Regions from separate parts of the Homo sapiens genome. Here regions 1 and 2 are each linked to region 3. The links come from fine-mapping of genetic effects on gene expression. A gene starts in region 3. Each other region holds a variant in brackets. All regions are shown on one strand. Distances are from middle to middle.

What was found. PIP is the estimated chance that this variant, and not a neighbour inherited with it, causes the effect.
Region 1: its variant is the best candidate, but not a certain one, in a credible set for the expression of DIXDC1 in whole blood (INTERVAL, PIP 0.63).
Region 2: its variant is the best candidate, but not a certain one, in a credible set for the expression of DIXDC1 in whole blood (INTERVAL, PIP 0.64).

What each region holds. Positions count from the first base shown.
Region 1 is chr11:111,792,736-111,795,397 of GRCh38, reverse strand. The region is part of intron 14 of ALG9 (ALG9 alpha-1,2-mannosyltransferase); the gene reads left to right. It overlaps LOC124902756 (a long non-coding RNA gene), which reads right to left and starts at 1,090. Exons shown (of 2, transcript XR_007062891.1): 1 at 1-1,090. The variant G/A (reference allele first, on the strand shown) is at 1,005.
Region 2 is chr11:112,204,704-112,207,365 of GRCh38, reverse strand. The region is part of intron 8 of BCO2 (beta-carotene oxygenase 2); the gene reads right to left. Among named protein-coding and RNA genes, the nearest start is that of PTS, 20 kb to the left of the region's middle. The variant G/A (reference allele first, on the strand shown) is at 1,122.
Region 3 is chr11:111,935,922-111,938,583 of GRCh38, reverse strand. DIXDC1 (DIX domain containing 1) reads right to left here and starts at 1,241. Exons shown (of 20, transcript NM_001037954.4): 1 at 1,025-1,241. The coding sequence starts at 1,084. RefSeq lists a silencer at 1,365-1,464.

The DNA.
Region 1 (2,662 bases), 140 kb after region 3:
ACAGCCCCCCAGCTCCCCACTCTAGACTTCTGCTTTGCTCTGCCCCACGTAATGGCTTTAGGATTGAATTGCTTAGGAAGAGAACAGAAAAAAAACTTTAGATTATTTTTGATATTTCCTTTTCCTTGTGGAAGATGAATATTGTAAGAAGGGTGGGAGGTAAACCAGATGCTCTGGTTTAAGAGTCAGAGCATAGGCGCTCATTCATTCACAGACTATTTATTGAGGACTTTCTGTGGCACTTTCCTAAAAACTAGAGATAGAGCAGTTAGATAAAATTCCATCCTCAAGGGACTGGTGGAGTATAACATACAGCATGGAACTCCTCTTTTGGATAACAGGGTTGTAAGTCACCTTTGCATTAGTTACCATTAGAATAATGTCTCTCACCGCATTTCCTGTTAAAAACTATTAAATAACAGTCACATTTTTGCTCCATACCAGCTTTTTGAGATGTGCTTAAATTGCTTGATATGGAACTATAGGTTGACTATCACTAAGTCTTGAAGGAATTCTGAGATTCTCTTCAGAACTGAAGATAGCTGCAAAAGCCAAGTTCTGCACTAAAGGTTGTAGAAAATCTCTCACTGAAAGGTGAGCTACAATGCAAGAGAGAAAGAAACTAGCTTGAAAAAGCTGCGGCTGGAAAGATAACTGGCAGTGGGCTTAGATTACAGGCTTACAGGGGATATTAATGCTTGGATGGATGGGTGGATGGATGGATGGATAGATAGATAGGTAGAGAGAGAAGAGAAAAACAGAAAGAGAGGAGAGGAGAAGAGAAGAGAGGAGAAGGAAGACAGGACAAGATGTGGGCCAGGCATGGTGGCTCATGCCTGCAGTCCCACTATTTGGGAGGCTGAGGCCACAGGATTGCTTGAAGCTTTAAGACCATCCTGGGCAACATAGTGAGACTCTGTCTCTATAAATAATAATAATGATAATAAATTAGCTGGGTGTGGTGGCACATACCTGTAGTCCCATTACTCTGGAGACAGATCAGG[G/A]AGGATCACTTGAACCCAGGAGGTCGAGGCTGCAGTGACTTGTGATCATGCCACTGCACTCCAGCCTGGGCAACAGAGCAAGATCCTGTCTTTTAAAAGAGAAAGAAAACCTGGATACTAGGATGTTTTCTTTTTAAAATAAAAAATTGACCCAGCATTTCCATTTGTGCCTGCTGAACTGGTGACATCAGGGACTGGCAGCCAGTCATTCATTGACGTCAGCAAGAGCAGATTTAAATCTCCACCGCCGAATGCTCCTCAGCCCTGATAGATAGGGCCAGTAATTGAATTAGAAAACATTCTGAGCCGTGAGCTAATTATGCTGTGCAGGCAATTGCTTTGCCCAGATCTGTTTCATCCTTGAATCACTTGAGTGACTTTCTCACTGGGAGGGGAAGTATTTCAGTTTCCATGATAGAGGCACATATTTATGTCTCCCTGAATCACGCTGCCTGTGCTGCCCTAGGGCAGTACTTTGGCATTTCACTTTATTACAGACATTATTGTATGAGTTTTGATAGGCATTAGTGTTGTCTGTGAATCAGTCTGATCTTTGTTTCCATGTGTATAAATGTGTGCAGGCACATGTCATTCCAGTGCACAACTGCTCTTTCCTTTTTTTTTTTTTTTTTTGAGCTGGACTCTCACTCTGTCACCCAGGCTGGAGTGCAGTGGCGCGATCTCGGCTCACTGCAAGCTCCGCCTCCCGGGTTCACGCCATTCTCCTGCCTCAGCCTCCCAGGTAGCTGGGACTACAGGCACCCGCCACCATGCCTGGCTAATTTTTTGTATTTTTAGTAGAGAAGGGGTTTCACCATGTTAGCCAGGATGGTCTTGCTCTCCTGACCTTGTGATCCGCCCGCCTCGGCCTCCCAAAGTGCTGGGATTACAGGCGTGAGCCACCATGCCTGGCCCGCTCTTTCCTTTTATAAAGGCAAATTACCAATTTGATTTCCTTTTTTCAATAACAATACAATATAACAATTCAAAATGCCCCAGTTATGCTTAGTATATTAAAGCTTTTGATGATAAAATAATCTAGAACAGCAGCTGGAATGTTAGAAATGAAGAATTCAAGCCAGCTTGTTCTTTTGGTTAAAAAGAAAATCACAGGCCGTGTGCAGTGACTCATACCTGTAATCCTAGCACTTTGGGAGGCCAAGGTGGGAGGATTGCTTGAGCCCGGGAGTTTGAGACTAGTCTGGGCAACATAGTATGACCCCGTCGCTGCAAAAAGTAAAAAATTAGCTGGGAATGGTGGCACACACCTTAGTCCCAACTACTCAGGAGGCTAAGGTGGGAGGATCACTTGAACCCTTGAGGTCAAGGCTGCAGTGAGCTGGGATCACACTACTACACTCCAGCCCAGGTGAAAGAGTGAGATCCTGTCTCAAAAGAAAAAAAAGAAATTACAATATATTCCCATCCCAGCTTAGAGGTGAGAATGGGCCTAAGCATATATTGGCTGCTTTCTGATTCCATCTTCTGGAAGAAATTAGTTAGTGGCTTTGTGTGATATAGATAGATAATGCTACTAAAGATCACAGCCAGAATCTGCAGGAGAAAAGGAGGTTTGTCTTCTAAAGGATTTTTTTCCAGTGCCACACTCTGATGTTAAATAGATCCTTCTTAGCTTTTCCTTCTATGTAATTCTCACC
Region 2 (2,662 bases), 270 kb before region 3:
GGCCATATTAAGTTAAGAATGTTTATTCATTAAAAGGCACTATTAGGATAATCTGATAAAGATAGCTAGAAAAATACCTATAGCAATTTTATATTTAATAATGAATTATTAAACATTTTTCAACACTACCTATTCAACTTCTATTCACTATCTTGCACTTCTATTCAACTCGAAGTCCTAGCTGGTACAGTAAGGCGAGAAAAAGAAATAAAGCCCTAAGTATTAGAAAGAAAGCTGTCATTATTTTCAGGTAACATGACTGTGCACATAGAAAATCCAAAATAATCTGTGGATCAACTATTTGAACTAATAAGTGAATTTAGCAAGATCTCTGGATATGAAGATAATATACAAAATCAATTGCATTTCTATAAAGAGCAACAAACAGAAAATGAAAGCTTAAAAGATACCATTTACAATAATTTCAAAACACACAAAAAGAAATGTAGTATCTTTATACTGAAAACTATAACTTTACTGAGAGAAATTTTAAAAGACCCAAATAAATGGAGGGATATTCCATGTTCATGGATTGGAAGACTCAATATTGTAAAGATGTCAATTGTCTCCAAATTGATCTACAGTTGCAATATTGTATCAGGTTTTTTCCTTGCAAAAACTGACAAGTTGACATCAAATTTAAAAGTTTCTGCACAGCAAAGGAAACAATCAACAAAACGAAAAGGCGACCTATGGGCTGGGGAAAAAAATTGCAACCACATATCCAATAAGGAATTATACTCAAAATTTGTATATTTTTAAATTTTTTTGTAGAGATGAGGTCTTGCCATCTTGCCCAGGCTGATCTTGAACTGCTGGGCTCAAGCAATCCTCCCACCTTGGCCTCCCAAAGTGCTGGGATTACAGGCGTGAGCCACCACACCTGGCCTCAAAATTTATAAAGAACTCTTACAACTCAATACCAGAAAAACAAATAACCCAATTAAAAAATGGGAAAAGCCGGCCGCCGCCCCGTCTGGGAAGTGAGGAGCGCCTCTGCCCGGCCGCCCACCGTCTGGGAACTGAGGAACACCTCTGCCCAGCTGCCGCCCCTGCCGCCCCAGGAGTGCCTCTGCCCAGCCGCCCACCCTCTGGCAAGTGAGGAGCGCCTCTGCCCGGCC[G/A]CTGCCCTGTCTGGGAAGTGAGGAGCGCCTCTGCCTGGCCCCCACATTGTCTGGGATGTGAGGAGCGCCTCTGCCCGGCCCCCGCCCTGTCTGGGAAGTGAGGAGGACCTCTGCCCAGCTGCCGCCCGTCTAGGATGTGAGGAGCGCCTCTGCCTGGCCGCTGCGCAACCTTCCAAGTGTGAAGTGACAGCCTTGTGTGTGATCTTTTCTGTCTTCCCCAAGTTTGCATTTTCAATATTAAAGTTTACTTTTTAATTAAAAGTTAAAAATAAATTAATTAATTAATTAATTAAAAATAAATAAAAAATGGGCAATGGACCTGAACAGTCATTTCTCCAAAAATAGAGGCCAGGTGTGGTAGCTCACACTTGTAATCCCAGCACTTTGGGAGGCTGAGGCAGGAGGATCACTTGAGCCCAGAAGTTTGAGAAAAGCCTTGGCAACATAACAAGGCCCCTGTCTCTACAAAAAAGTTTTAAAAATATTAGCTGAGTGTGGTGCCATGCACCTGTAATCCCAGCTACTTGTGAGGCTGAGGCAGGAGGATCATGCATGCCCAGGAGTTTGACAGCAGCCTTGGCAACATAATAAGACCCTGTCTCTACAAAAAAGTTTTTAAAATATTAGCTGAGTGTGGTGCCACGCACCTGTAGACCCAGCTACTTGGGAGGCTGAGGCAGGAGGATCACGTGTTCCCAGGAGTTTGAGGCTTCAGTGAGCTATGATCATGCCACTGCACCCAGCCTGGGCAACAGAGTGAGATCCTGTCCCTAAAAGAATAAAATAAAAAATAAAATAAAATTTGAAAGTCCAATAGGCATATAAAAAGGTGCTCAACATCACTAACCATAAGGGAAATACAAATTAAAACCACTATATAAAACCTCACACTCATAAGGATGGCTATTATCAAAAAGACAAGAGATAACAAATGTTGGCAAGGGTGTAGAAGAAAGGGAACTCTAGTACATTGTTGGTGGGAATATAAATTGGTACAGCCATTATGAAAAACAGTATAGGAGTTCCTAAAGAAATAAAAAATACAGATGACCCTTGAACAACACGGAGTGGGGTAGAGGTGCCAACCCCCTACATAGTCGAAAATCCACACATAACTTTTGACTACTCAAAAATTTAACTACTAATAAACTATTGTTGACTGGAAGCCTTACCAATAACATACAGTTAATTAACACATATTTTGTATTTCATATGTATTATATACTGTATTATTACAATAAAGCAAACCAGATAAAAGAAAATAAGAAAATGTTATTAAAGGCTGGGTGTGGTGGCTCAAGCCTGTAATCCCAGAACTTTGGGAGGCCAAGGTGGGCAGATCATCTGAGGTCAGGAGTTCGAGAGCAGCCTGGCCAATATGACAAAACCCCATCTCTACTAAAAATACAACGGGCATGGTGGCAGATGCCTGTAATCCCAGCTACTCGGGAGGCTGAGGCTGGAGAATTGCTTGAACTGAGGAGGCGGAGGTTGCAGTGAGACGAGATCACGCCATTGCACTCCAGTCTGGGCAACAAGAG
Region 3 (2,662 bases):
GGAGCCAAAGGCACTTCAGTCTTGCCTATCAAATGCTCATATTTAAGAAGACAATGTATTCATATGTTGAGTAAAAACTGATTTTAAAAATCTTAAATTTCAGAGAGTCACAGAGAGAAGAAAGAGAGAGATGGAAGGAAAAGGAGCGAGAGAGAAATGAAGAAAGACACAACTAACAGCCTAGGTTTCCCTGGATGCTGGGCTAAGACAACCCGCAAGAGTAGGGCTTAGCTGCAGTCGAAGACGTATGGAGCAAATCTTGAGGGGGAAGCATCCCAAACCAGAATTTCCTGGGTCACAAGAAAAGCAAATGCAATAAACAGAATTGTAAGAGAAACAAGTGGGGAGGAAATGACCCCTTGTCGGCCCTAGCCCATCTTGCCTGTCAGAGTGAGGCCCCAGTTCCTCTGCTCTCACATGGACCGGTGCACGCGCTGGCTCCCTGGACCCAGGACCCAGGTCCCCTCTCGCTCAGTAGCTCCTCTCAGACAACCATGTCCTTGATTGCAGAGAAATCTACTGCCCCGCACTCAGAAAGAGATTCAGACATGAAGAGGGCACTTCACATGGACCATCTACAGTCCCCTGCCCTCTCAAACTTTCTACCAATGCAGTACCACTCCACCCTCCCTTGGCTCCGCTGGTTAGCTCCTGATATAGATGAGCACTTTTGCCAAATATCCAGGGATTCCCTGAGGATTTCCTTGGAGAGAGAAGCTCTAGGGAGGATGGAGACCCCCTCTTCTGGAAGGAGGTGATTTCTGAATTTGTGGTCCTGTCCTCTTGGGCTCAGGTAAGCTACCAGGGAAGGTCATGGCCCAGCTTAGCTGTGGGCAGGCAGCCCTTCTGATTTCTCCTGGTTCACCCATCTGCACCGTAAGTACCACCTTAGCCCCTTTGGGGTTCTGGGGGCGATTTGCTCTGGGGTCCCCAAAGGATGGAGGAGGAGGAGGACCCCTTCCGGAGACTGGGCGGGAGACGCTGGGGGAGGGGAGCTGAGGAGTGGGAGGAGCAGGACAGTTACCTCATTGAAGCCCTCCTGCAGGACGTCCAGTAAGTTCCCTCGGGTCAGGCAGGCTAGCATTGTTCCTGCTGGGGGCTCCCCGGGCGGGGTCTCCAGCCCGGCGGCCGCCGCCGCCTCCTCCTCCTCCCTCTGCACACAAAGGCTCTCGGCTCAGCTCATTGGGATCCCTCCGGAGTCCCGCATGCCACTTACTGGAAACCTAGACTGGAGCCAAACTAGCGGCTTGCACTGGGCATGCTCGCACGGGGGCCTCCGCTGGAGGGGCCCGGCGCGGTCGCGGTTCCTATGGAAACAACTGGGCGCGCACTAGGTTGAGCGGCGCTGCCGGGCTGCCCCCAGCCCCGCTTTCCTGCGGGAAAGCCGCACGGCCAGGCGGGCTGGCGAGGGCGCGCGCTGCACGCCCGCACGCACGCGCACACCCCCCCCCCGCCCGGGCCGCAGCACGGGCGTGTGTGCGTGCGCTACACACACACACACTCACACGGCTTTTAGGCAAACGTGCTGCTGTATGTGCGCGCTGTGTGCATACACACACACACACACATACACACATACACACATACACACACACACGTTGACAAACAGGCGGCCCGGCTGGCGTATGCATGCGCTTGCAGCCGCGCGCGCGCACACACACACCAGGCTTGCAGGCGGGTGTGCCCGTGGGGAGGGTGCGCAACACACACACACACACACACACACACACACACACACTGCTAACTTAAGGCCACAAACGGCCCACCAGAAGGTGGGTGGGAAAGGGAGTGAATCATAGGATTTTCCCCCAGACTAACCGAAAACAGCAACCTTTTTCCACATGGGCCCTGGACAGTGAGGTCAAGCTAAAGAAGAGGAAGCAGAAGGGAAAGAAATAAGAAAGAGAAAGAGCAGAGGAAGAAAGGGGGAAAAGAGGATAAAAAGAACTTTAGTTATTGATGGTATCAGAACACATTCAATAGAACAGTGCTAAACATCACGCAGGATCGCAACAGAAACATCAAGGATGACCAAGCCTTTTCCAAAATTTTCCTATTTCATTCTTTATAAAATAACTGCTAAAATATACAACCCATATTTTAATGTGTTTTAAAATAAATGGGCTTTAATTAAAATAAAGACTGCAAAAATGTCCTGGTGCATTTGAAAGAGGTAAAAAGCTTCCTCAAGTGAAACAGAAAGCTATTCTAGGCTGTTTCTAGCTATTCAAGTCATAGCCTTGATTATTTATTTTTAGGAATACTAGTCATTTGCAACTCAGTGCAAACTCTTGTTTCTATAGGAAAACTCGAAGCTGAAAAAACATTCATTTTACATTCCACCTCGTGATCCCAGATGGAGAGGAAGGGTTTACAGAGCATTAGGGCTCAGAGAAGGTCAGGGCCTTGTCCAAGGACGCAGCCAATCAGTGACAGGCAGCTCAAGGATCTAGGAGTCTACACTTATGATTTTCTGGAAGACCCAGATTCCTCCTCAAATCCTGATTAGTACCTTAGCCAGAAAAGTCAGTAATGGCTCTTATTCAACCTAATGACCTCTTCAGGTCCTTAGAGAAAAAGAAAATCCACCAAGAGCAGCCAGGCTAGCAATATCTTGTCTGAATGTCTAAAGCTGCTAAACACAAAGATGTTTCTGAAAAAG